Linked DNA regions of Homo sapiens. The protein of the gene in region 1 purifies or fractionates together with the protein of each later gene. This does not show direct contact. Each region holds a gene or a part of one and is shown in the gene's direction. Other genes may lie near its edges.

Evidence for each region.
Region 2: the proteins of LOX (region 1) and ATP6V1A fractionate together in Homo sapiens (co-fractionation; one large-scale study listed by BioGRID). This does not show direct contact.
Region 3: the proteins of LOX (region 1) and PPARA purify together in Homo sapiens (co-immunoprecipitation; one large-scale study listed by IntAct). This does not show direct contact.
Region 4: the proteins of LOX (region 1) and ATP5F1C fractionate together in Homo sapiens (co-fractionation; one large-scale study listed by BioGRID). This does not show direct contact.
Region 5: the proteins of LOX (region 1) and VWA8 purify together in Homo sapiens (affinity purification with mass spectrometry; one large-scale study listed by BioGRID and IntAct). This does not show direct contact.
Region 6: the proteins of LOX (region 1) and ATF1 purify together in Homo sapiens (co-immunoprecipitation; one large-scale study listed by IntAct). This does not show direct contact.
Region 7: the proteins of LOX (region 1) and ALG13 purify together in Homo sapiens (affinity purification with mass spectrometry; one large-scale study listed by BioGRID and IntAct). This does not show direct contact.

The regions. Positions count from the first base shown.
Region 1 is NC_000005.10:122,065,478-122,068,259, reverse strand, and holds part of LOX (protein-lysine 6-oxidase isoform 1 preproprotein), read left to right. Parts: intron 1-1,510; coding exon 1,511-1,517; 3' UTR 1,518-2,782. UniProt on the Homo sapiens protein: Responsible for the post-translational oxidative deamination of peptidyl lysine residues in precursors to fibrous collagen and elastin. Regulator of Ras expression. May play a role in tumor suppression. Plays a role in the aortic wall architecture.
Region 2 is NC_000003.12:113,795,535-113,799,034, forward strand, and holds part of ATP6V1A (V-type proton ATPase catalytic subunit A), read left to right. Parts: intron 1-341; coding exon 342-405; intron 406-2,708; coding exon 2,709-2,912; intron 2,913-3,500. UniProt on the Homo sapiens protein: Catalytic subunit of the V1 complex of vacuolar(H+)-ATPase (V-ATPase), a multisubunit enzyme composed of a peripheral complex (V1) that hydrolyzes ATP and a membrane integral complex (V0) that translocates protons.
Region 3 is NC_000022.11:46,157,026-46,160,525, forward strand, and holds part of PPARA (peroxisome proliferator-activated receptor alpha), read left to right. Parts: intron 1-3,500. UniProt on the Homo sapiens protein: Ligand-activated transcription factor. Key regulator of lipid metabolism. Activated by the endogenous ligand 1-palmitoyl-2-oleoyl-sn-glycerol-3-phosphocholine (16:0/18:1-GPC). Activated by oleylethanolamide, a naturally occurring lipid that regulates satiety.
Region 4 is NC_000010.11:7,791,177-7,794,676, forward strand, and holds part of ATP5F1C (ATP synthase F(1) complex subunit gamma, mitochondrial isoform L (liver) precursor), read left to right. Parts: intron 1-3,500.
Region 5 is NC_000013.11:41,884,610-41,888,109, reverse strand, and holds part of VWA8 (von Willebrand factor A domain-containing protein 8 isoform a precursor), read left to right. Parts: intron 1-748; coding exon 749-913; intron 914-1,279; coding exon 1,280-1,329; intron 1,330-2,081; coding exon 2,082-2,190; intron 2,191-3,500. UniProt on the Homo sapiens protein: Exhibits ATPase activity in vitro.
Region 6 is NC_000012.12:50,795,101-50,798,600, forward strand, and holds part of ATF1 (cyclic AMP-dependent transcription factor ATF-1), read left to right. Parts: intron 1-797; exon of another isoform or gene 798-808; coding exon 809-909; intron 910-3,500.
Region 7 is NC_000023.11:111,729,670-111,733,169, forward strand, and holds part of ALG13 (UDP-N-acetylglucosamine transferase subunit ALG13), read left to right. Parts: intron 1-725; coding exon 726-758; intron 759-855; coding exon 856-911; intron 912-3,500. UniProt on the Homo sapiens protein: Catalytic subunit of the UDP-N-acetylglucosamine transferase complex that operates in the biosynthetic pathway of dolichol-linked oligosaccharides, the glycan precursors employed in protein asparagine (N)-glycosylation.

The DNA.
Region 1 (2,782 bases):
TTGCTCCAGCAATATGACTGTACAAGAGGGATTCCTGATGTGGTCACTCATATAGAGTTGAATTTTTTTTTTTTTTTTTTTTTTTACTAGTTATTACTGACTGTAACAAACTTCAAGAGTGGTTGAAGCTGGAATGTTTATAACTAATATAAACCAGATGAAAATATGAAAAGTGAAATTATAATTAGTGATCATAATAAAATGTCATACTTATTCTGAGTGGAAATATTGGGGAAAGTATAGAATATTTGAGAAAAAAACCCCACACCTTCAGGATAGTAATACTTGCTTCTTACATTTTGACTTTCACATCAGGCCTTCCTTCCTAGGAATCAGAGTTCAGACAGAGGAGAGGTCTCTTTGGGCTGAGTTTCAGGAGTGACTTTAGGATACATTTGAATTGAGCCTTGAAGTCTGGGGAATGCACCGGGGAGCATTAAGGAAAGGAAGCCCAGGGCAAGTCAACGTCACAGGCAACTTGCATGGCAGGAGGAAACTGCAGGGCATGTTTGGAAAAACAAGTCTTCTAGTTTGGCTAAAGCATGAATTTTGTGGAGTTACGAGTTGGACAAAAAGGATGGAAAAGTAAGTTGAGCCAGATGGAAGACAGCCCTGAAGAGCAGGCTAAAATTTATTCTGGAGGCAGTGGGAGGCTGAAGCTTTTTGAGCAGGAAGTGTAACTTGCCTAAGGCCATCAGGTCAGTCTGGTGGCTGTGTAAGCAGCAGTGAGTGTGACTCTGAAGACATATCATGTATCAGTTCACTGATTGCTTTTCCTGCCAGATATTTAAGAGCATTCTGTTGATGTGTAAAAGCCACCCAGTAAATAGTTGAATAGGTATGTGCTGTTAATGTACCCTCTCTCCTTCATTTTCCTCACTGAAACAAAATGTACGGACCAGGTGACTCTGAGGCTTCTTTCAGTTATAAGATACTATGTAAGTTTTTTTTTTTCTCCTCACAGAATTTACTGTTTGGAAATTGGTAGTTTATGATTTGAATAAGTGAATTTTCACTTCCTTACATGAAGATCTATGGTCACATTTAAAGACAGTAATATTTGATTGATTAGCTTTGGTCCAGTTTCTGCCTATTAATGTATTATTCTACATCCAAAGCCATGCTGGAGAAGGACTAATTCAAGATGGAGCAGAGGCCTTGACTCTACTTCTTGGTGGACATGCCACCCTTGTTCCATGGAATGAATTCCCCTGGTCAGGGATGCTGGTCCCAGAAGTCCTGCTGTACTCTTGAGTGTTTCAGAAGTGGTTTCTTTGCCTCTAAATGTGAAGAGTGTAGGCATCAGGCATCTCTGCTGTTGACATAGTCACTTTCTTCAAACCATTATTAAAATGATGTACTACTGCATAATTTCACAACATGATTGCTGCTTAGGTGGAGGGAAACTGTTGCATAAAGTTTTTAAAAGGTTGACTTTAAATTTGTCTGTTGTACTCATTCATTATATTATCAGGTTAATAATTTGTCTTATTTTGTCTTCTTAATCTAGGTATTAGAAGGCAAAGCAAAACTCCCAATGGATAAATCAGTGCCTGGTGTTCTGAAGTGGGAAAAAATAGACTAACTTCAGTAGGATTTATGTATTTTGAAAAAGAGAACAGAAAACAACAAAAGAATTTTTGTTTGGACTGTTTTCAATAACAAAGCACATAACTGGATTTTGAACGCTTAAGTCATCATTACTTGGGAAATTTTTAATGTTTATTATTTACATCACTTTGTGAATTAACACAGTGTTTCAATTCTGTAATTACATATTTGACTCTTTCAAAGAAATCCAAATTTCTCATGTTCCTTTTGAAATTGTAGTGCAAAATGGTCAGTATTATCTAAATGAATGAGCCAAAATGACTTTGAACTGAAACTTTTCTAAAGTGCTGGAACTTTAGTGAAACATAATAATAATGGGTTTATATATGTCATAGCATAGATGAATTTAGAAACAATGCTCCTACTGTTTAAATACATATGGACACATCTGGTGCTGAGAAAGAAACAAACACATTACCATTGGTGTCAAGAAATATTACTATATAGCAGAGAAATGGCAATACATGTACTCAGATAGTTACATCCCTATATAAAAAGTATGTTTACATTTAAAAAATTAGTAGATAACTTCCTTTCTTTCAAGTGCACAATTTCATTTTGACTTGAGTCAACTTTTGTTTTGGAACAAATTAAGTAAGGGAGCTGCCCAATCCTGTCTGATATTTCTTGAGGCTGCCCTCTATCATTTTATCTTTCCCATGGGCAGAGATGTTGTAAGTGGGATTCTTAATATCACCATTCTTGGGACTGGTATACATAAGGCAGCCGTGAAACTGGAAAGTCATTTTGATGACTGATGTGATACATCCAGAGGTAAAATGCATTTAAACATATTAAAGTATTTGCCAAAGATACAATTTTCTTGCTGACATAAAAATCACACAAACAAGTCCCCCCCAAACCACAACTGTCTCTCAAATAGCTTAAAAAAATTGAAAAACATTTTAGGATTTTTCAAGTTTTCTAGATTTTAAAAAGATGTTCAGCTATTAGAGGAATGTTAAAAATTTTATATTATCTAGAACACAGGAACATCATCCTGGGTTATTCAGGAATCAGTCACACATGTGTGTGTGTCTGAGATATAGTCTAAATTAGCAAAGCACATAGTATTACATACTTGAGGGGTTGGTGAACAAAGGAAAAATATACTTTCTGCAAAACCAAGGACTGTGCTGCGTAATGAGACAGCTGTGATTTCATTTGAAAC
Region 2 (3,500 bases), on another chromosome or scaffold:
TCACTACATAAAGCCATACTTTTTTCTTAGAGCGTTTCCTCCTTGCTTCATCTATTTGATTAGAATAATAAAATTGATTATAATAAAATATCTATCTCATGTCTCATAATAGAAGGTGTTCTGTAGTTTCTATTGTTGTTTACAACTTAAATACTGGCTTTTGTTTAAGATTTTTAGGTAAGATTTTCTTTCCAAAGGTCATTTCTAAAGTTATTTACATTAAAAAGTTATTTACATTAAAATCGACTTTAAAAAAAGTTAACATTTATATATATGTTATTTTTCATAAGCATTTCTAATGACCATTTTTTTTGTAATGACCATATTTTTTTTAAATTTAGAGTTTCTCCACCTGGTGGTGATTTTTCTGATCCAGTTACATCTGCCACTCTTGGTATCGTTCAGGTATGTCTTTCCCTAGTATAGTCAACTTCTGAGCCTTTCCTCCTCTCTGCAGCCCCTGCTGTTCTAATGCGATCTAATGTAATCGTTGTGAAGTATTTAATTTAGTCTCTAAAGGATAGGCAATGGTAAAGTCTGGTTTAGAAACACTCTTAACACAGAGCCTTTAATACTGTCTGTTTTTTTCTTAGCTGTTTACATAGGATTTATAATAAACTTAATAATATATAAGTGGAAAATATAGGTAGCAAAAATTTTATTAGTATTAGAGTAGTATTATCCTTTAAGTCATAGTAACCCTAGTTATAGAAACAAAGAGGCCCAAAAATGTGTAATACCCAGAAGTTATTTCACTTCACAGTATGATCCAAGGCTCTCTTCTGTTTAGTGATAATTCTGAGTCCAGGATTCTTTCCATCTTGTGACTCCACTGTCACCTAGCCTGGTGATCATCTGCATCTAGCTGACACAAGGGAGCTGGGCCTTGTGGAGAAGGCATACCCACCTTTTTTGAACCTTGGATTCAAAAGTGACACAGTCACTCCACTCATTCTATTAGCCACATCCAGGTGAAAGCAAGGCTGGAAAATGCAGTTTCTGCCTAAGCATTTGCTTTCCAGTGACAAGACATGAATTTTAGTGGATAGGTAGCCAGCTTGGCTATTAAAAGAAGCCCAAATAAAAGATGTGTACAAATCAGAGCTATAGTTAAAAAAAAAAAGTGATATGTGTATATTATTCATGTGGGAAAAACAGAATATTTACTTGTGTTTCTGACAGTATCAGAGAAAAGGAAATGTCAGAGGCTAAATGTACAACTCTCAAGCTTTTTAACGTTTGCTAAAATTTTGAGTTTTAAATTATGGGGAAAGAGGGAACAGAGTTAGAAATGCATGGAATATCTGTGAATGTTTGCCCTTACAAAAATCACTGTCAGTTGTTGTTGGATTGGCCCTGTGAATGATAGGCAACTAAATTTAATCAAAACACTTAGATGTTTTTGTTTTGTTTGTTTTGATACGGAGTTTCACTCTTGTTGCCCAGGCTGGAGTGCAATGGCACAAACTTAGCTCACTGCAACCTCCACCTCCCGGGTTCAAGTGATTCTCCTGCCTCAGCCTCCCAAGTAGGTGGGATTATAGGCACCCGCCACCACACCTGGCTAATTTTTTGTGTTTTTAATAGAGACAATATTTCACTATGTTGGCCAGGCTGGTCTTGAACTCCTGACCTCAGGTGATCCACCCGCCTCAGCCTCCCAAAGTGCAGGGATTACAAGCGTGAGCCACCATGCCTGGCCCAGAACAGTTAAAAAAAAAATTTTTTTTTTTTTGAGATGGAATCTCACCCCCATCATGCAGGCTGGAGTGCAGTGGCGTGATCTCAGCTCACTGCAACCTTCATCTTCCGGGTTCAAGCAATTCTTCCTCCTCAGCCTCCCAAGTAAGCTGGCATTACAGGCATGCGCCACCACCACGCCCGGATAATTTTTGTATTTTAGTACAGACAGGGTTTTGCCATGTTGGCCAGGCTGGTCTCGAACTCCTGACCTCAGGTGATCCACCTGCCTCAGCCTCCCAGAGTGCTAGGATTACAGGCGTGAGCCACCATGCCTGGCCAGTTAGAGGTTTTTAATCAAAGTAAAGTGTGTATTCGATCTACATAAACCTTTTCTGGTTCTATTGTACCATAATAATTTTCAAAAGAGTAAATTAATTTTTCTTTTTGCTTTTGGATTTGGCACAGTATTAAGAAAATAGAGGTAAATTTTAAATTCGATTTGTAGGTATTATGCACTTGGAAAATGAAAGGAAATAGATTATTGTCATTTTCTGCAAGTTTTATTCTGTTTTAATTTTACTTAGTATATACTAAAACGATGTATAATTTGACCAGTGAATTGTAGAATTGCATATTTAGGGGTCAGGCATGGTGGCTCATGCCTGTAATTCCAGCACTTTGGGAGGCCAGGGATCACATGAGGTCAGGAGTTCGAGACAAGCCTAGCCAACATGGTGAAACCCCATCTCTACTAAAAGTACAAAAATTAGCCGGGCCTGATGGCGCATGCTTGTAATCCCAGCTACTGGTGAGGCTGAGTCAGGAGAATTGTTTGAACCCATGAGGTGGAGGTTGTAGTGAGCCGAGATCATGCCACTGCACTCCAGCCTGGGTGACAGAGCAAGCCTCTGTCTCAAAAACAAAAAAAAAAGAATTGCATAGTTGGGACAAACATGCTTCGGTATTTTTTAACTTTGTTTTTTGAGAAAAATTACTGTTTTTGTGTGTGTGTTTTTTTTAATCAGGTGTTCTGGGGCTTAGATAAGAAACTAGCTCAACGTAAGCATTTCCCCTCTGTCAATTGGCTCATCAGCTACAGCAAGTATATGCGTGCCTTGGATGAATACTATGACAAACACTTCACAGAGTTCGTTCCTCTGAGGACGAAAGCTAAGGAAATTCTGCAGGAAGAAGAAGACCTGGCAGAAATTGTACAGCTTGTGGGAAAGGTGAGTTGTTAAATTCCATGGAAGATAGATCTGTGGGTTACACTGGGGTGTTTCAAGGACAGATAGAGCCTTGGATATTACAGATTCTTGCCTAGCAAAATAAATATTTATTAAATATTTTTAATTGAAATTTTCTATTCATTATAGTACTTAGCATGGTTTTTGGGTATATTGTATGTGAGAAAGAAACATTTGATTTACTTTTATCTTGAAATGGAATATACCCATCACCAACCAAATTAGAGGTAGTAGATTTAGGATTTGTTAGCATACATTTTTGTAGGAATGCTAGGGCTAGGTTTCAGAAGGATTGGCTTCTAGTTCCTCCAATAATTAGCTATTGGCCTTAAACAGGTGAGTTACATTCTTGTGCCTGTATCTTGGATTCTTCAAGGAAAGATGGTGTAATTAAATTTAGGCAAATTAAATGCCAGAATGAAAAGACTTCTCAGATAGTATGCAATGCTAGTTAGTACTCAGAGTTCTTTGTCTGGTTTTGTTCTTTTTATTACATGTTACAAAGTCATCTCCTAATTTATTCCAAAAAAGGTTAATATTAGGAGATAGCTAACATTCTAACATGTATTA
Region 3 (3,500 bases), on another chromosome or scaffold:
AAATGCAGGCCCAGTGAATCTCCCCATGCCTGGACACAGTTCCGTCAAGCCAGGACCCGGTGCTGCCTGCACCCCTGTTTCTGTTAGTCTGACTGTCCTCGCTGAGTCTAACTCCTTGAGGGCAGAGAGGATGTCTTATTTATTTCTGCCCCGCTAGCCGTGTAAACTGAGTAGGTACTTGTAAATGTTCATTGAATAAGTACCTGATTAATAGAATTTAATTCAAGAAGAATGTATTGATGGGCCTGTGTGGTCACCACAGTACTGAGATGTAGGTGGGAGCTGGCTGAAGGGGGAGGCACCTAAACAGGAGTGCAGACAGCGGCACCTACGGATGATGGCCCGCTCCATCCCACCGCAGCGAAATTGTCCCAGACCTCTGCAGCTTCCCCCACACCTAGACTGAGAGAGAGCTCTTCTTCCTTCTGTAGGGAGCAGGTGTTTCCTCCAGATGTCCAATATGTACCTCCCATTACAGCGGTGTTAGGAAGGTGAGGGCTGCCGCTGAAAGGGTCCCCTTCATAATCATCACTAGATTTGGGGTATATTATGGATTAAATAGAATTTTTATAAGATGACCTGAGGATCTATTTAAATAAAATCCTCTTTCTTTCTGCAAGATCATGGATTTAAATTCAACACAACTGACTTCATAGGGAAGGGGTATGGTGAAAGGGAAGTGAGGTGGGCAGCACTGATATTTAACAAGGTGAGGGTCCTTCTCCTGCTCTGACTGTCACATTAAAATATTCCCAGGAGAAATTGGAGAAAACTCAGATGAAATATCGTCTGTGTTCCAGGAGGCAGGACTCATCGGAATGCTTTTATTTTGCTCCATTTTAAGAGATTTGCAGATAAAGAGGAGTGAAGATTTCTATTCAGATTTACTTGCTTTATATTTTAACTTATAGACCACAAGCCAACTTTCGAAAGAGCATCATTTTGAATAGTAAGAGTTAGGAAGGCAAATACAGAAGGACTAATGGCTTCCAAGATTATGAGCTTCATAGGAATGGTTTGAGATGAGGCTATAGTAAAGCAGAATATTGAAGTTCCCCCACCCCCTTTCATTTTTCATTTTTCATTTTTAAGAGTGAGCGAGGCCAGGCGTGGAGGCTCACACCTGTAATCCCAGCACTTTGGGAGGCCGAGGTGGGCAGATCACAAGGTCAGGAGTTTGAGACCAGCCTGGCCATCATGGTGAAACCCTGTCTCTACTAAATGTACAAAAATTAGCCAGGCTTGGTATCAGGTGCCTGTAATCCCAGCTACTCAGGAGGCTGAGGCAGGAAAATTGCTTGAACCCAGGAGTCGGAGGTTGCAGTGAGCTGAGATCGCACCACTGCACATCTCAGAAAAAAAAAGAGTGAGGCCCCAAGTTTTTTTGCATTTGTTTGTAACTGAATACGTCTGAAGTTATGTGATAACCACGCCAAGGTGACAAATTGCCAAGTTTCAGTAAAAGAGACCCAGTTATTTAGAGGTTGACACGTGGATATGTCCCTTTCTAAGAAGTTCGTGGTCAGCTTTACATGAGTATTTAAATGCGTGTTTATAATTCAGCAATATGGCTTGTAAAATACAGATTGCCAATCAAGTGACATGCAAATCTTGATGATCTGAAACAAGTTTTCTTCTGTTATCTATGGAAGAAATGGTAATAGGGATATTTAAGTGGGATGAATTTTTTGAAGCATTTTCAGGCAGTTTTCCACATGGAACAAAATAACATTGAGTGGGCTGCTAACATGAGGAACATATTGCCCTCTGCCTAGGATTATGAGTAAATTTGATAAATTCTAGACTGCAGTCTCATTTTAGCTCATTTTATGAGGCAGCTTGACAACTGGGATAGTGTCTCTTTTTTTTGTCGGGGGTGTTGAGGCTGGAGTCTCGCTCTGCTGCCCAGGCTGGAGTGCACTGGCGTGATCTCGGCTCACTGCAACCTCTGCCTCCGGGGTTCCAGTGGTTCTCCTACCTCAGCCTCCTGAGAAGCTGGGATTGTAGGCATGTGCCACCACGCCCGGCTAATTTTTGTATTTTTTAGTGGAGACGGGCTTTCACCATGTTGGCCAGGCTGGGTCTCAAACTCCTGACCTGAAGTGATCTGCCCGCCTCAGCCACCCTAAGTACTGGGATTACAGGCATGAGCCACCACACCTGGCTTCTGTTCTATCTGTGCATTGGGGATGAAATTAACACAAATGATGTTTAAAGAAAAAAATGCTCAGAGAAGTTAGAAATGTGCTTTAAATTGGAATCATCTCTTAGTATGTAAAAGTTTTTTGTAATAGAAACAAGCAGGGCAGTATTTGACCTGTTGACAGTGTCCTTGGACTTTACAATTTGTGAAGCAGCGTATTTTGCTTGAGTTGTACGATTGTCGTTTTTTTCCCCCCACTTTGACAACTGTTACAGAACCTGTCACCAGATACAGGCAAGGGAGGTTGGGCTTCCCATCTCTGCACGGCTTCCCTGTGATTCACAAGCAAGCAATCAGAAGTGCACAAAAGTTTAGAACGCGATTTTCATTCTCTTCTTTCCTTAGAAAAACTCGCTTTGTTAGCCTTTTCCAGAAAGGAAGGCACTCAATTGTTGTAATACTCAAATCATAAAAAGAAGCCTAGTCTAGTCTATTCAGCAAGGTGTTCTGAAAGAGGGAATTTTTTAAGTTCAATTATGCGAAGATCTTGAAGGTGGGACTCAAAGGAGAGGGCTATCCTGGGAAGAAGGCTTTGGAAAATGAGAGGCATGAAGGGGAGAGGGTATTTAAATGTGTTTGAAGCCAAGGATCCTTGAGAGAAAAAGCTGGCACTAACAGCGTTCAAAGAACTTGCGTGACAAGTGATGACTAATGACACTGAGGGTGGGTTGTGGGTGCCTAGTGAATTCCTCCGAAGCCAAGAGAGAGGTTTCCAGACCCAGGGAAGAAGGTGTGTACACCCAGAAGTAGTGTAGGGACAGAGATTCCGATCACAAGCTGTGACTGGAAGACGCCGACCACCACTGCAGCAGCCTGAAAACCACAGTCTTGAACCGCCAGCGAAGGGCTGGGAAGTGCGGATCCAGGGCTGGTGCACTGAACCCAGAGGAGCAGGCTCCCATTCCCAGCTAAGGGTGGCAGCTGGCGGGGATCTTTCCAGCAGAAAGCTGTAAGTGGAAGCTTTCAATTCAGAGCAGTAGCAATGCCTTCAAAGTCCCAGGCTTCACGTGGGAACAGAGAATGTGAAGAGTATTTAGCAGGATGCCAATATAAGAAATCTATATTGGTGTTCGTTTGTTTGTTTTTGAGATGGAGTCTCGCTCTGTCACCCAGGCCGGAGTGCAGTGGTGCGATCTCAGCTCACTGCAATCTCTGCCTCCTGGGTTCAAGCGATTCTCCTGCCTCAGCCTCCTACATAGCTGGTACTACAGGCACGCGCCACCATGCCTGGCTAAATTGTTGTATTTTTAGTAGAGATGGGGTTTCACCACGTTGGCCAGGCTGGTCTCAAACTCCC
Region 4 (3,500 bases), on another chromosome or scaffold:
GTAGTCCCAGCTACTCGGGAGGCTGAGGCAGGAGAATTGCTTGAACCCGGGAGGCGGAGGTTGCAGTGAGCTGAGATCGTGCCACTGCATTTCAGCCTGGCGACACAGTGAGACTCCATCTCAAAAACAAAAAAAAAAAGATGATGCAGTCATGGGTGTGGGTTAGGTAAGTGTGAAGGAGTCAGTTTTTGCTGGTGGCAGGTAATGGACTTTTACACGCTTAATATCAGAATTAGAGTCACTTCATAATTTTCGTTGAGAATTAGCCAATATTGCTTGCTTTTTAAGTTTTTATGTATCTTAATATACTCCTTAAAAATCTCTCAAACAATAGTTTCTTGGAAGGGTGTCATTCCTGACTCCCTCCTCCACTGCCTTCGTCAGCTGTTATAACAGCGCTGTGGAATCATGGTAGATAGTGGTAATCCACGGTCCATTTGATTCTCCCTCCACTGTGTTTCTTAGTCTCCCGAGGATCTCAGGACGTGCAATGATTCAGAGCTTTATCTCCTCATTTGCAAAACTTTTATATTTAATAAAGGAAGCTATCCCTAAAGAGAGTTCAATTAGCTCATCACTGTTCTTACTCAAATTGTACCTAACAATTAAAGTAGTAACATAGACGTCTTCAGAATTAAATGAAAGCTAAACATGAGAGTGCTTTAAAACACATGAAATTAGGGCAAATGCGTAGCATTATCACAAAAGATGCTACCTCTTCATACCTCTGACTTGGAGTACTTAAGGAAACCAAAACATTCTGTGTTTGTCCAAATATGGTATTCAATTCAAATTTATACCATATGGTATTCTCTGACTAGAAACTTGTGTCAGTTGAAGTGTCTGCCTAAAACAATAATATCCAAGAGTGACTTGTTATAACCAATAAATTTTGTGTTCAGGGAGAAAAGTCATTACTACACCAAAAAAGGAAGGTTGACCAAAAACTGGTATTACTTTTCAAGTGTGATTATGAAAAGCTGTTGTAGTAGAACAGTCATGGCAGGTAGTTTGTGCTCTGAAATAACAGAGCTTGTCAGGATTTGCCAGCTTTTATCTTTTCCTTTAGTAGATTCATTCTTAAAACCAAACCTAATATTTTTCGTGCTGTAGTGGGAGAATCACCTGAGCCCAGGAAGTTGAGACTGCAGGAAGCCATGATCACACCACTGCACTATAGCCTGGGTGAGGGGAGTGAGACCCTGTCTTCAAACCGCAAAAAACAAAGATCCACTCTTTTTGTTATACAGTTCCACGGATTTGGACAAATGCATAATGACATGTATCCACCATTACAATATCATGCCAAAGAGCTTCACTGCCCTAAAAATCCCTCCTCTACTCTCCCCAAAACCCTGACAACCACTTCTCTCAACTATTGCTAGATCCTCGGCTTTTCTGGCATGTCACATAGCCAGAATCATACAGTATTTGCTTTTTTTCAGATGGCCTTCTCTCCCTTAGCAGTATGCACTTAAGGTTTCTCCATGCCTTTTTATAACTTAATAGCTCCTTTGTGGTTTTGGTGAATAATAGTCCATTGTATGGATGTATCAGAGTTAGATTATCCATTCATGTATTGAAGGACATCTGGGTTGCTTCCAACTTTTGGCATCATGAATGAAGCTGCTTTACATGCTCTTGTGTAGGTTTTATGTGGACATAACATTTCATCTCAGTTGGGTAAGTTAAGACTAGGTTTAGGTTTGTAAAAAGCTACCAGAACATCTTCCCAAGTGGCTGTGTACTATTTTACATTCTGCCAGCCATCAATGAGAGTTCCTTTTGCTCCACATCCTCATCATCATTTGCTGGTCAGTTTCTTGGGTTTTATCCATTCTTGCAGGTGTGTAGTGATATCTTACTGTTTTAACTTGCAGTTCTCTAATGACATGATACTGAGCATCATCTTATGTGCTTTTTGCCATCTGGTTGGTTTTTGTTTTTGTTTTTTGAGACAGAGTCTTGCTCTGTCATCCAGGTGGAATGCAATGGCACGATCTCTGCTCACCACAACCTCCACCTCCTGGGTTCAAGCGATTCTTCTGCCTCAGCCTCCTGAGTAGCTGGGATTACAGGTGCCCACCAGCACGCCTGGCTAATTTTTTGTATTTTTAGTAGAGACGGGGTTTCACCATGTTGGTCAGGCTGGTCTCGGAACTCCTGACCTCGTGATCCGCCTGCCTCGGCCTCCCAAAGTGCTGGGATTATAGGCGTGAGCCACCGCACCTGGCCCTGCCATCTGTTGATCTTCTTTGGTGAAGTTTCCAGATCTTTTGCCCATTTTTTTTATTTGGGTTGTTTGTTCTCTTATTGCATTTTAAGAGTTGTTTGTTTTGGATACAAGTCCTTTATCAGAGATGAGTTTTAGAAATATTTTCTCCCAGCCTGTGGATTGACTTTTCATTCTCTTCACAGTATTTTTCACAGGACAGAAGTTCTAAATTTCAATAAAGCCCAACTCATTTTTTTCTGTCATGGATCATGCTTTTGGTGTTGTGTTTAAAAACTCATTGCCAAACCCAAGGCACCTGGATTGTCTCCTGTGGTATCTTGTAGAAGTTTTATGGTTTGGCATTTTATATTTAGGCCTGTGATTCATTTTAAGTTAATTTTTATTAAATTTGTAAAGTCATTGTACAGATTAATATTTTTGCATATTAGTGTCCAGTTGTTCCAGTGCCATTTGTTTGTTGAAAAGAATATCCTTTTTTCCTTGAATTGCTTTTGCTTTTTTATTACTGTAACTTTAGAGGAGGTCTTAACGTCAGGTAGTGTCAGTCCTGACAATATTGTTTGACTTTTCTAGGTCTTTGGCCTTCCTATATAACCTTGAAAATCAGTTTATTGATATCCACAAAATAGATATCAACTAAAATCAAACTTGCTGAGATTCTAATGGATTTTTAAAATTGTAAAACACATGGAACATGAAGTTTATCATTTTAACCATACAATTGTGTGCGGGCATTTTTAACTTCATACTCCAGTAGTTCAGGGCTGCTGCAGAGGAATGCAACTAGCTTTTTATATACACTAACCTTATATCCTGCAACCTTGTCATAAATGCTTATTGGTTCTAGGAGGGGCTATTTTTATTCTTTGGGATTTTCTACATAGATAATCATGTCATCTATGAACAAAAACAGTTTTATTCCTTCCCTTCAAATTTCTATGCCTCTTATTTTCTTGTCTTACTGCATTAGCTAAGACTTCCAGTATGATACTGAAGAAGAGTGATGAGTGGGGATTTCCTTGTCTTGTTCGCAATCTTATGGGGAAAGCTCCTAGCCTCTCCCATTAAATCAGAGATTTTGTGTGTTGTTTTTTTTTTTTTTAGCAGGTTGAGGAAGTTCTCTATTCCTAGTTTGCTGAGAGACTTTTTCATGACTGGGTGTTAGATTTTGTTGGATGCTTTTTCTGCACCTATTGATTGTATGATTTTTTCTTTAACCTGTTGACGTAATAGATTATATTATTTGATTTTTTAATATTGAACC
Region 5 (3,500 bases), on another chromosome or scaffold:
ATATTTTTCCTACTAAGAAGGCTAAGGTTCCAAAGGTATAATACCATGCATACGCTAACATTTAGTAAAAGTGTACATCAAGCAGTTGAGCCAGGATTTGTGACTCTAAAACCCATACTGTTTCCATTCTCTAAGCTCCACTGTATGCTAGTTGCAGGACGATGGGCAAGTTATATAACTCCTTTGAACTTTGATTCATTCATTCATATAAAAAGGAGATAGTCTATATTGGATTCTGGTGAAAGTTAAATGAGAAAAATCCATGGAATGTGCTTACCACATAGTAAGTTTCCAAAACATGTTAGTTATTGCTAGTAATATGCTTTGCTAGGAATAACCATAAACATAATTATCTATTTAAGGTCCACTGGTAATCAATCACAGCTTTGCTGGTGATCTGCCCGTCGGGGACTACCTTTGTTACAACCTCTAGTCATGTATTTTCCTTACCCCCTGACTGTTTTCCTCTGTGTTACTGACTAAGGCTTGGAGATCTGACCCAAGTCTCCTTTATTCCTTGGTGTGTTAACTGCTTTTCCTTTCAAACACCCCAGTCTTCATGTTGTGAGCCTGCCCTGGCATCCTGAACCTGATTTCACTTTGCTGCCTTCCTTGACAGTATGGATTTGAGAGTGTTCTCCAATACAGTTTTCTCAACAGTCAAGTCCTAAGTCCCTGGACTTGGCAGCTCTTACAGTTGTGATTTGTATCATTTATGCTATAGCTTCCGGATCTCTTACTTTTATAGGATCATACCAAAAAAGAGTTGGATTCTTGGAAAATTGTCCGAGTTAGTGAAAATTTCCGAGTGATTGCCTTGGGCTTGCCAGTGCCAAGGTATTCTGGGAATCCATTAGACCCCCCTCTTCGTTCTCGATTTCAAGCCAGGGATATTTATTATTTACCCTTCAAGGTAAGTAAGACCAAGGATAATTTATTTGTTAAACAGTTTTTCTATTTATAACAAGAACTTCAATGCTATAAAAATGTTACTGCAGTTTTGAATGTCTTCCTGAGTAGGTCATGGAAAGATATGAGAATAAAGAGTAAAGAAAAGCTCTGGAAACTAGGAAGAAAAATTATTATGGCATTATTTGAAGGATTTTTTTTAAAAGGCTGGCTTTTCTTTTAGAAAATGAAATGTATCAATAAATGATTTTTTGCTGTTAAATATTTAGTGTCTGCTTAATTAAAAGGTTGGATTGTATCTACAAAACATTTGCATTTAATCTGTTACATTTCTTGTTAATTAATTTAATATGTTTCTGTATTACTTTAGGACCAACTTAAGTTGTTATATTCAATTGGAGCCAATGTTTCTGCTGAGAAGTAAGTATATTTTTATAAATGTCTGGACACTGAATATTGAATTTGTTTTGCCTGTTCATTGATTGATTGATTAATTAATTCAGTCATTCAACAACTAGAATTCTTATAAGAATTTTTCAGTATTAGGATGTTTGGTGATAAAATTAATAAGATATCTTTGGCAGGAAACTCAAGATCTAATAGAGTTGAAAGATATGTGAATAGCTTTGGTTAACATGGTATAGTAAGTGCCATAATTTGAAAATATTTGGGGGCATTAGTTGAGACTTTATAAGGGCTTCATAAAAGCATTGGTGTTTGAAATGGGTCCTAAATAATGAGCAAGTTTTTGCCAGATAGAGAGTGGAATCAAGAAATTCGAACACAACAAGTGTTTTTTTTTTGTTTTGTTTGTTTGTTTGTTTTAAAAGCATGGAATGTGAGAGTTTATGCCTTGTTTTTAGGGCCATAAAAAACTCTTGGAGGCTAGAGTTTAGGTTTGGGATTACGAAATGTGAGAGATGAGGCTGGCAGGGTAGATTTGGACCAGGTGGTGAAAAACCTCAAATATTGTGATGAATTTAGGAATATATTTGCATCTAATCAGCTTCTGAGTTTTAAGTAGGATATTATGATGCGGAACCATTGTTCCTTAAGAATTAATATTAGGGATCTTTTTTAGATTAATTAAATTGGCCCCTGTATTTTATATTTAACAACTTACACATTTTATATTTTAAAACTATTAAAATTTAATATCATTTTTCCCTTAGAGTTTCTCAGCTCTTGTCCTTTGCCACAACTCTGTGTTCCCAAGAATCTTCTACTCTTGGACTTCCAGACTTTCCTTTAGATAGTTTAGCAGCTGCGGTTCAAATCTTGGTAAGTAAAATAAATTAATGACTGGCATACCCAAATATGTTAAAAATTTTGAAAGTTAATCATTAGGGATTAATGACTTCAGTTTGCTTTTGTCATACTCTTCTATAAATATTGTAAGGCCTGAGATTAATTTGTTGTGCAGTGCAGTAAACTGTACAGAGACCAAGGACATGTTCTGAGCCCCTAAAGAGCTTTCAGCTTTGGAGTAGGAGCTAGACATGCAATCTCAGTAAAGTTCTACAGAGGGAAGGAAGGCTTTAGCCTGATCAAGTAAGAGGTGTGCTGCAGTGTGAGTTAGGCCTCAGAGCTGTCCTTACCTGAGTTAGGGGAGCTAGGGCTTTCACACTGTTCTAGCTTCCATCAGTCTCTGTGTCATGGTTGTCTCAGGGGACACAAATTCCCAGACACTAACTGCTCTCCCAGCATGTGTGCAAGGGTGGCTTCAAGAGCCCAAGGATCGTCTTCTTAGAAAGACCTACAGCAATTGCTGTTGGAAGAGAAAGCTAGGAGGCACAAGAGAGAATGCAAACAGATCTGAGGGGATCTGATAGAGTACAGACATTGTCCACTACAGTTTCACAAAGGGCATGGCGGTCATGTCTGGAGTGATAAAAGGCCCAGGAAGTCAAAGCACAGGCAAATGTGTTTAATCACAAAAGGGCCTAGTATCTTTGGAGAATGAGAATAAGTTGTATCCCTAAAGCAAGTGTGTGTGGTAGAGGGAGAAGTCAGACCGCTATTGTGAAATGTTTTGCATGATGAATGAAGTTTCCTGGATTTTATGATATGGAAAAAGTGGCTTATCAGACAATATTAAGTTGGTGGGCTATGAATGTGACCAGACTTATGTTGGAGGAAGACACCTTTGTTGGAAGTGAGGGAATGACTAGGAAGCTTTTGTAACACTCAGTGAGACCCTGTGGAGGAGGGCACCATCCAAGATAGTGGGAATACTATCTTAGGCAAGAGACTTATTTTTAAACTTGTATGTATGTATGTATGTATGTATGTATGTATGTATGTATGTATATATGTATGTTTCATGTGAGTCAGGGAGCCTAGGTATTGTTGACATTGTTCTATACATCCAGAACAGAATTTCTCCTCCTGTTTATCAAATCTTATACTTTTATCAAATCTTTTTGTTTTTGCTTAGAACATTTTATTTTGAAAATTCTTATGAAATCTTTTGTTTTTGCTTAGAACATTTTACTTTGAAAATTCTCAAATGTAAAAAAAAGTTGAAAAACAGTAAAACATTCATAATCCCCTCACCTACAATCACCCATTATTAATATATTGCCACATTT
Region 6 (3,500 bases), on another chromosome or scaffold:
AAAATGGCATATATTTATACCTGCCATTGCCAGTGACCTCCACCTTGCTAAATCGAATGGTCTGTTCTCAGTCTTTATTTTATCTCAGCTTGTAAACAGCATTGGACATGGTTGATCATTCTTTTCTCCTCAGTATGCTGTCTTCACTAGTTTTCCATGGACAGCTCAATCATTTGGTTCTCTTCTTTACTGGTGACTCCTTAGTCTCATTTGCTGGTTCCTCCTCTTCATCCAGTCTCTTAGTGTTCCTGAGGTTAGTCCTCAGTCCTCTTCTATTTACCCCTATGAGCTCATCCAGTCTCATGGCTTTAAGGACTCTAAAAAGCTAGACCTCCAAAATTTATGTATCTAGCCCAGACCTCTTCCCAGACCTACAGGCTTGTATATTTAATATTCGTCTCAATGTCAGCAGTTGAATATATAACAGGTTTTTCAAACTTAGCATGTCAGGTAGATTAGTAATAAAACAACACTTTTAAGTAATGTGCATCAGTGTAGAAATAGGGTGGAGAATGACATCAGAGCCTGGTCTTTTTAACTCTGGTAAAATAGTACTGCTTCATTTGGGGGACAGACTTTATTCTCAGCTCTGGGCCTGCTATATTTGATATTCCTTTAATAGGTTGGGCTCCTGGAATAAACTTTCTCATTTTTCCTTTTCCTTTTGTTCCTTTCTTTTAGACTTTAGATTTAATGTACAAATGAATTGGAGTGGCAGGAGACAGATCATTTTTTTCTAAAAGTAAAAATTCAGTTGTTTCTTTTCCCACCTGCATTGTTCATCATGTTAATGCCAGTTCTTTTTTAGGTATCATCTTTATCAGAAAGTGAGGAGTCCCAGGACTCATCCGACAGCATAGGCTCCTCACAGAAAGCCCACGGGATCCTAGCACGGCGCCCATCTTACAGGTGAGTACTCTCTTGTATGAAGCCCTGCATGTTATGATAGTACCAAATGAGTTCAAGAGGTGCTGTGCAAAGTACACTAAAGAAGTTAGCACGCGTCAGTGTTAAGAATGAAATTGGTTGGCCCTCGCCTATAATCCCAACCCTTTCGGAGGCCGAGGTAGGATTGCTTGAGCCCAGGAGTTCAAGACCAGCCTGGGCAACATGGCAAGACCCTGTCTCTTCAAAAAATACAAACCTTAGCTGGACATAGTGGCGCACGCCTGTAGTCCCATCTACTTAGAGGCTAAGGCGGGAAGATGGCTTGAGCCCAGGAGTTTGAAGTTACAATGATCTGTGATTGTGTCACTGTGCTCCAGCCTGGGTGATAGAGCAAGATCCTGTCTCCAAGAAAAAATGAAATTGGACCTTTGGCCGGATGCAGTGGCTTATGCCTGTAATCCCAGCACTTTGGGAGGCTGAGGCGGGCAGATCACCTGAGGTTAGGAGTTTGAGACCAGCCTGGCCAACATGGTGAAACCCCGTCTCTAATAAAAATAGAAAAATTAGCCGGGTGTGGTAGTGCACACCTGTAATCCCAGCTACTTGGGAGGCTGAGGCAGGAGAATCACTTGAACCTGGGAGGCGGAGGTTGCAGTGAGCCGAGATTGTGCCACTGCACTGCAGCCTGGGCAACAGAGCAAGACTCTGTCTCAAAAAAAAAAAAAAATGTAAATTTAATCTTTATCTTACACCATTACACAAATCAACACCAAATGGATAAGAGACCTAAATGTTAAGACCTGAAACCATAAAAATCCTAGAAGAGAACATAGGCGATAAGCTCTTCGACATTGACCTTGGCAATGATTTTTTGGATATCACACCAAAAGCTTAGGCTACAAAAAAATAAATAAATGGGACTACGTCAAACTAAAAAACGTGTCTGTGTAGCAAAGGAAACAAAGCAACAAAATGAAAAGGCAACTTACGGACTGGGAAAAAATTATTTGCAAACCACTTATCTGATAAGGGGTTAATACCCGTAACTGAAGACAAAATGAGAGAACCTGAGGATACAGCTCTGAGTAGATTACCTAGAATGGAACACAGAAAGACAAAGTTAAGATAGAACACAGAATGAGAAGGTCCAGTACACAACATACATAGATAAAAGGAGAGAAGAGGGAAGGGCACTTCCAGCTTCTAGTCTCTCCAGGAGAGAAAATGATAATGACTGCAATTTCCAGGATATGAATTTCTCAGCATAAGAAAGCAAGGTCCCAAACAAGATAAATTAATAGAAACCTACATCTAGGTGTATGTTGTAAAGTAAAACTGGAGAACACCAAGGATAAACCTGAGATCTTAAAAGCTAAAAGCTTCCAAGTGAAAAGACCAATTACCTAGAAAGGAAGGACCAGTAAGCTGACAACAGATTTTTGAAGTACAGTATAAGACAATGAACTAAAATCCTTATTTTTATCTTTAAATTATTACATGTTTTTTTGAGACGGAGGTCTCACCCTGTTGCCTGGGCTGGAGTGCAGTGGTGTGATCACAGCTCACTGCAGCCTCAACCTCCTGGGGTCAGCTCCTCAGCCTCCTGAGTACCTGGGACTATAGGCATATGCCATGATGCCCACCTAATTTTTTTTAATTTTTGGTAGAGATAGAGTCCCACTATGTTGACCAGGCTGGTGTCAAACTCTTGGGCTCAAGTGATCCTCCCACCTCAGCCTCCCAAAGTGTTGCTATTACAGGCATGAGCCACTGTACTCAGGCTCCAATATTTAAATTCAAAGAGAAAGTAACTTTTGACCTGGAATTCTGTGCCTACTGAACAGTCTTTCAAAAATGACGGTGAAATAATAATCATTTTCAAACTGATTTAAGAAACTACTTAAGGAGGCTGGGTACAGTGGCTCACGCCTGTAATCCCAGCACTTTGGGAGGCCGAGGCGGGTGGATCACTTGAGGTCAGGAGTTCGAAACGAGCCTGGCCAACATGGAGAAACCCTATCTCTACTAAAAATAAAAAAATTAGGTAGGCATGGTGGCACATGCGTGTAGTCCCAGCTTGAACCCAGGGGGCGGAGGCTGCAGTGAGCTGAGATCGTGCCACTGCACTCCAGCCTGGGTGACAGAGTGAGACTCCATCTCTAAAAAAAAAGAAAAAAGAAACTACTTAAGTGTATACTTCAGGAAGAAGAAAATGAAAGGAATATAAATGTGAGAAAGTATGGTGAACAAAGACAATTCATTTCAGTTAGCATTGGCTTTTTAGAACAATAGTAATAATGATTAATTTGGGTAGTTTCATGGTTGTTGTTTTTTTTTTGAGATGGAGTCTCGCTCTGTCATCCAGGCTGGAGTGCAGTGGAGTAATCTCGGCTCACTGCAAGCTCCGCCTCCTGGGTTCATGCCATTCTCCTGCCTCAGTCTTCCGAGTAGCTGGGACTACAGGCGCCCGCCACCACACCTGGCTAATTTTTTGTATTTTTTAGTAGAGACGGGGTTTCACTGTGTTAGCCATGATGGTCTCAATCTCCTGACCTCGTGATCTGCCCACCTTGGCCTCCCAAAGTGCTGGGATTACAGGCGTGAGTCACCAT
Region 7 (3,500 bases), on another chromosome or scaffold:
GGGTTTATATTTGGTGGAAAACTGTCCGATTGAGTATTGACTTTCTCTGCATTTCAGTGGTACAGAAATCTTAAAAGTACTTCAGTCTACTGAGCCATCCTTTGAGGACACACTCATTTTACATGTATTACTTACATGAAACAGATTGAAAAACAGATGAGGCATACATGTTCCCTTAATGTCCACCTAAGGAAACAGTGGATTATACTCATACTTTATAGACACCATTGAGTATTTAGTATGTGTAAAGCACTATGCTAAGTTACTTTCACTTCCATTAACCATCCTCAAAAGGCCTATGAGCTAGGTACTGTTACTCCATTTTACAGTGAAGAATTGAGGCACAGAGATTAAATAACTTGCCTAAAGTCATGTAGTTAATCAGAATTCAAATCTAGGCAGTCCTCACTCCAGAGCCTATGTGCTTAATCACCACACTGTAGCCTCACTGGAAAAATTGGACACAACTGAGTTTTCACTTCTGCCTGACCTCTAAGAGCTAAGTGGATTTTCAGAGGAGAAATTTGTACAGCTTACAGCTAGTCTGTGGCTTCAATATCTGTTGACTAGTGTGAAAGCTCATATCACTTTTCAGGATGTATGCATTTTAGTTTTGAACATATAACCATAAAACTGGTGGAAAAAGCAAGTGCTGGCCATTTGGCTCTGCTGAGCTAAAAAGACCTATATAAACACATTTCTTCTGTCTTGTCTTTTTTCCCCAGGGCGATATCATGAAGAATATCTTTATCGTGCAGGTCAGTAAGATCTAGAAGTGATCTGGCATTCATCATTGTTTATAGAATTTCAAGCTATAAAATAATGCTCATTTTTTACTTTGGCTATATTCTCTAGAGCCAGACTATGAAACTTCAGGTGTTTATAGCACAACTGCATCTACAGCAAACTTGGTAGGTATTTAATAATAGCAAAGAGTTATAGCTCCTACTATGTACTAGGGCACTGTTAAGAGCTATACATATAAATGTATTTAAATCAGAACAACCCTGTGAGGCTTAGTATCATTCTCATTTTGAAGATGAAATTGAGACAGAAATTAACTCGTGTTCTGGAACTAATATATTTAGAGATATTCTAACATAGGCAGTAATGATCTTTTAGAAGGTTTTATTATGATTTTTTTATTAGAATGGATGATACATCTCACTCAATATAACAAAAGTTTGCTTCTCCTTTATGCTACATGTCTAGTAGAGGTCTGTAGAAGGGCTTGCTCAGGTACTTAGGCTGATGGAAATTCATCCACAATTGCCAAGGCAGGAAATAAAATTCGGTAAATGGTGCACTGGCTCTTAGAGTTTCCACTAGAGGTGATACATGTCACTTTCTTTTCCATTTCACTGGCCAGAGCAGGTCCCACTGAAGAGTCTTAACTTTTCTGTGCTGGAAGGCAAAAAGAAACATGTTAACAGCGCTAAGAACTATATCATTCAACTTGCCCTCCCTCTCATAGGCAGAATACTTGTTTCTGTCTCAAAGGAGGCATCCTAAAATGTCCCATTCAGTGTAATCAAACTCAAAGCCTAGGATTTCTGGGCTATGTGTAGTACTTGTTATATTGGGTCCAGATGTAGCTTCTTGTGATCTTGAGACTTAAAACCAAAAATACAGAGGTTTTATTTTTTCCCCCTCCCTCCCCAGTTTACAGTGCTGAAGCAGGGACTGAAATTTCTATTCATAAAGGGAGAAAAAAACAGTTATTGGCCTGTAGCAATTCTGAGACCTTCATGGGCAGACGTTGTAAGGGCCCCCAACATACTCATGGGACTCTTCCCTGGAGGAACTCTCGTTCATTTTCTGGGGCTCTTGGTTACTCCCAAGGCCCATCCTTCCTTGGCAGTGTTTGGAGTAGGCATTGGAGAATAATCCTTCCTTGGCAACCGAGCAGCTTTCTAAGCTTGCTACTTACAGAAGATTGGAGGCCCAAGGGTGGTTTTATCTCAGTTGAATGGTTTTAGTTCTGGCTCGTGATTTCTTTGGCTGTAAGATTAATTTATTCTGCTTCTGTTTGATTTCTTTTGGTTTCATGTACCAATAGCCATACTACAGTTCTTTTCTATAGATATACTACTAAGATTTGCTATAATTCTTTGTGGTTTTATCCTTATATTTCTGTCTATTTGATTGCAAGTGGCTTGAGTTTATCAGGCACTGATGGAAGAGCCATGCATTTTGGACATTTTTCTACAAGCCATTTTGTTGAAGTGCAAGGATTTACTAGGTGTTACATCCTTAGTTGAACTCTAGCTTTGAGACATCTTAATACACTCGGGTTTTAACCAAAGAGTTCATTCTTGCTGCGAGGTCGAGTTTTCACTGTTTGTCGTTGTTCAAACCATTCATCAATATTACCTTTTATAGTTTAGGGTTGAAACAGTTGTTCCTTCAACCCTGTGAGTCCCTGTATGCAAGGAATCTATTCCCTTTCATTCCTGCCTGCAAACTACTAATTCTCTCCTACATACACCTGTCTTAAAATAACTTGCTTTAGACAATGCCAACAGTTATCAAAGCACAATACTAACATCATGTCTTCTAAATTGCTTACCCTAAGAGCTACATGTTCATAATCTCCTTCTCAATTAGGATTTTGTTATAGCCGTACCCTACTTCTAGTTACCAATTTCTGTTTTAGTCAAGCTAGGTTATGCTGCAGTTAACAACCCCCCAAAATCTCAGTGGCTTAACTCAGGAAAAGTTGTTCTTGCTAATGTTATATAGTTCAATGCGAGTTGGCAGCAGGCTGCCAGACTATGACTGTTCTTCATAGTCACCCAGGGACCCAGGCTGATGGACACATGCCATCATGATCATCACAGCAGGGCAAAAGATACAGAAATTGAACACTGACATTTCTGGTCATATTTTATTGACCAAGTAACATGGTCATTCTTGACTTTGGATGGAGCTGGGAAGGGCAATCCTACCATCTATTCAGGAAATCTGGAATATTTATGAAGAACTTGAATAACTACCTTATATTCTCTAATTATGACTAAACTGTGGCAGCTTCATGTACTAAATTTTTGTTTTTACTGTTTAGACAATATACCTTAGGAAGGAGAAGAAAACTCTGATACGTAATTCTCTTTCTGTTCTTTCTCCTTCCCTTACTTTGCTCCTTCCAGAGAAAGTTTTTTCCCCCATTTCCTGCCACCATTACTATTCTCATATCATGTGCTTTTGATATCACCTCTTGAAGTAGCCAAGTAAGAATCTTACCACAAGGGATGACAAGAATACTTTTTTTCTGTTCCTTCAATTTCACTTGTCACATGTTCCTTTTTGTTCTGAATTTAAACAACCTCAATAGCTTTCAATCTCTTCATATGTTCCAAGCCCTCTGCCCCCATCACCAAATCCATAGCAAATTTCTATTGTTGCTAAAATAAAGGATAAATGTCTTCAGAATTATCAGCATACATTAAAAAAAAACTCTTTGTCTTTAATTTTTAATTTCAATAGGTTTTTTGGAGAAC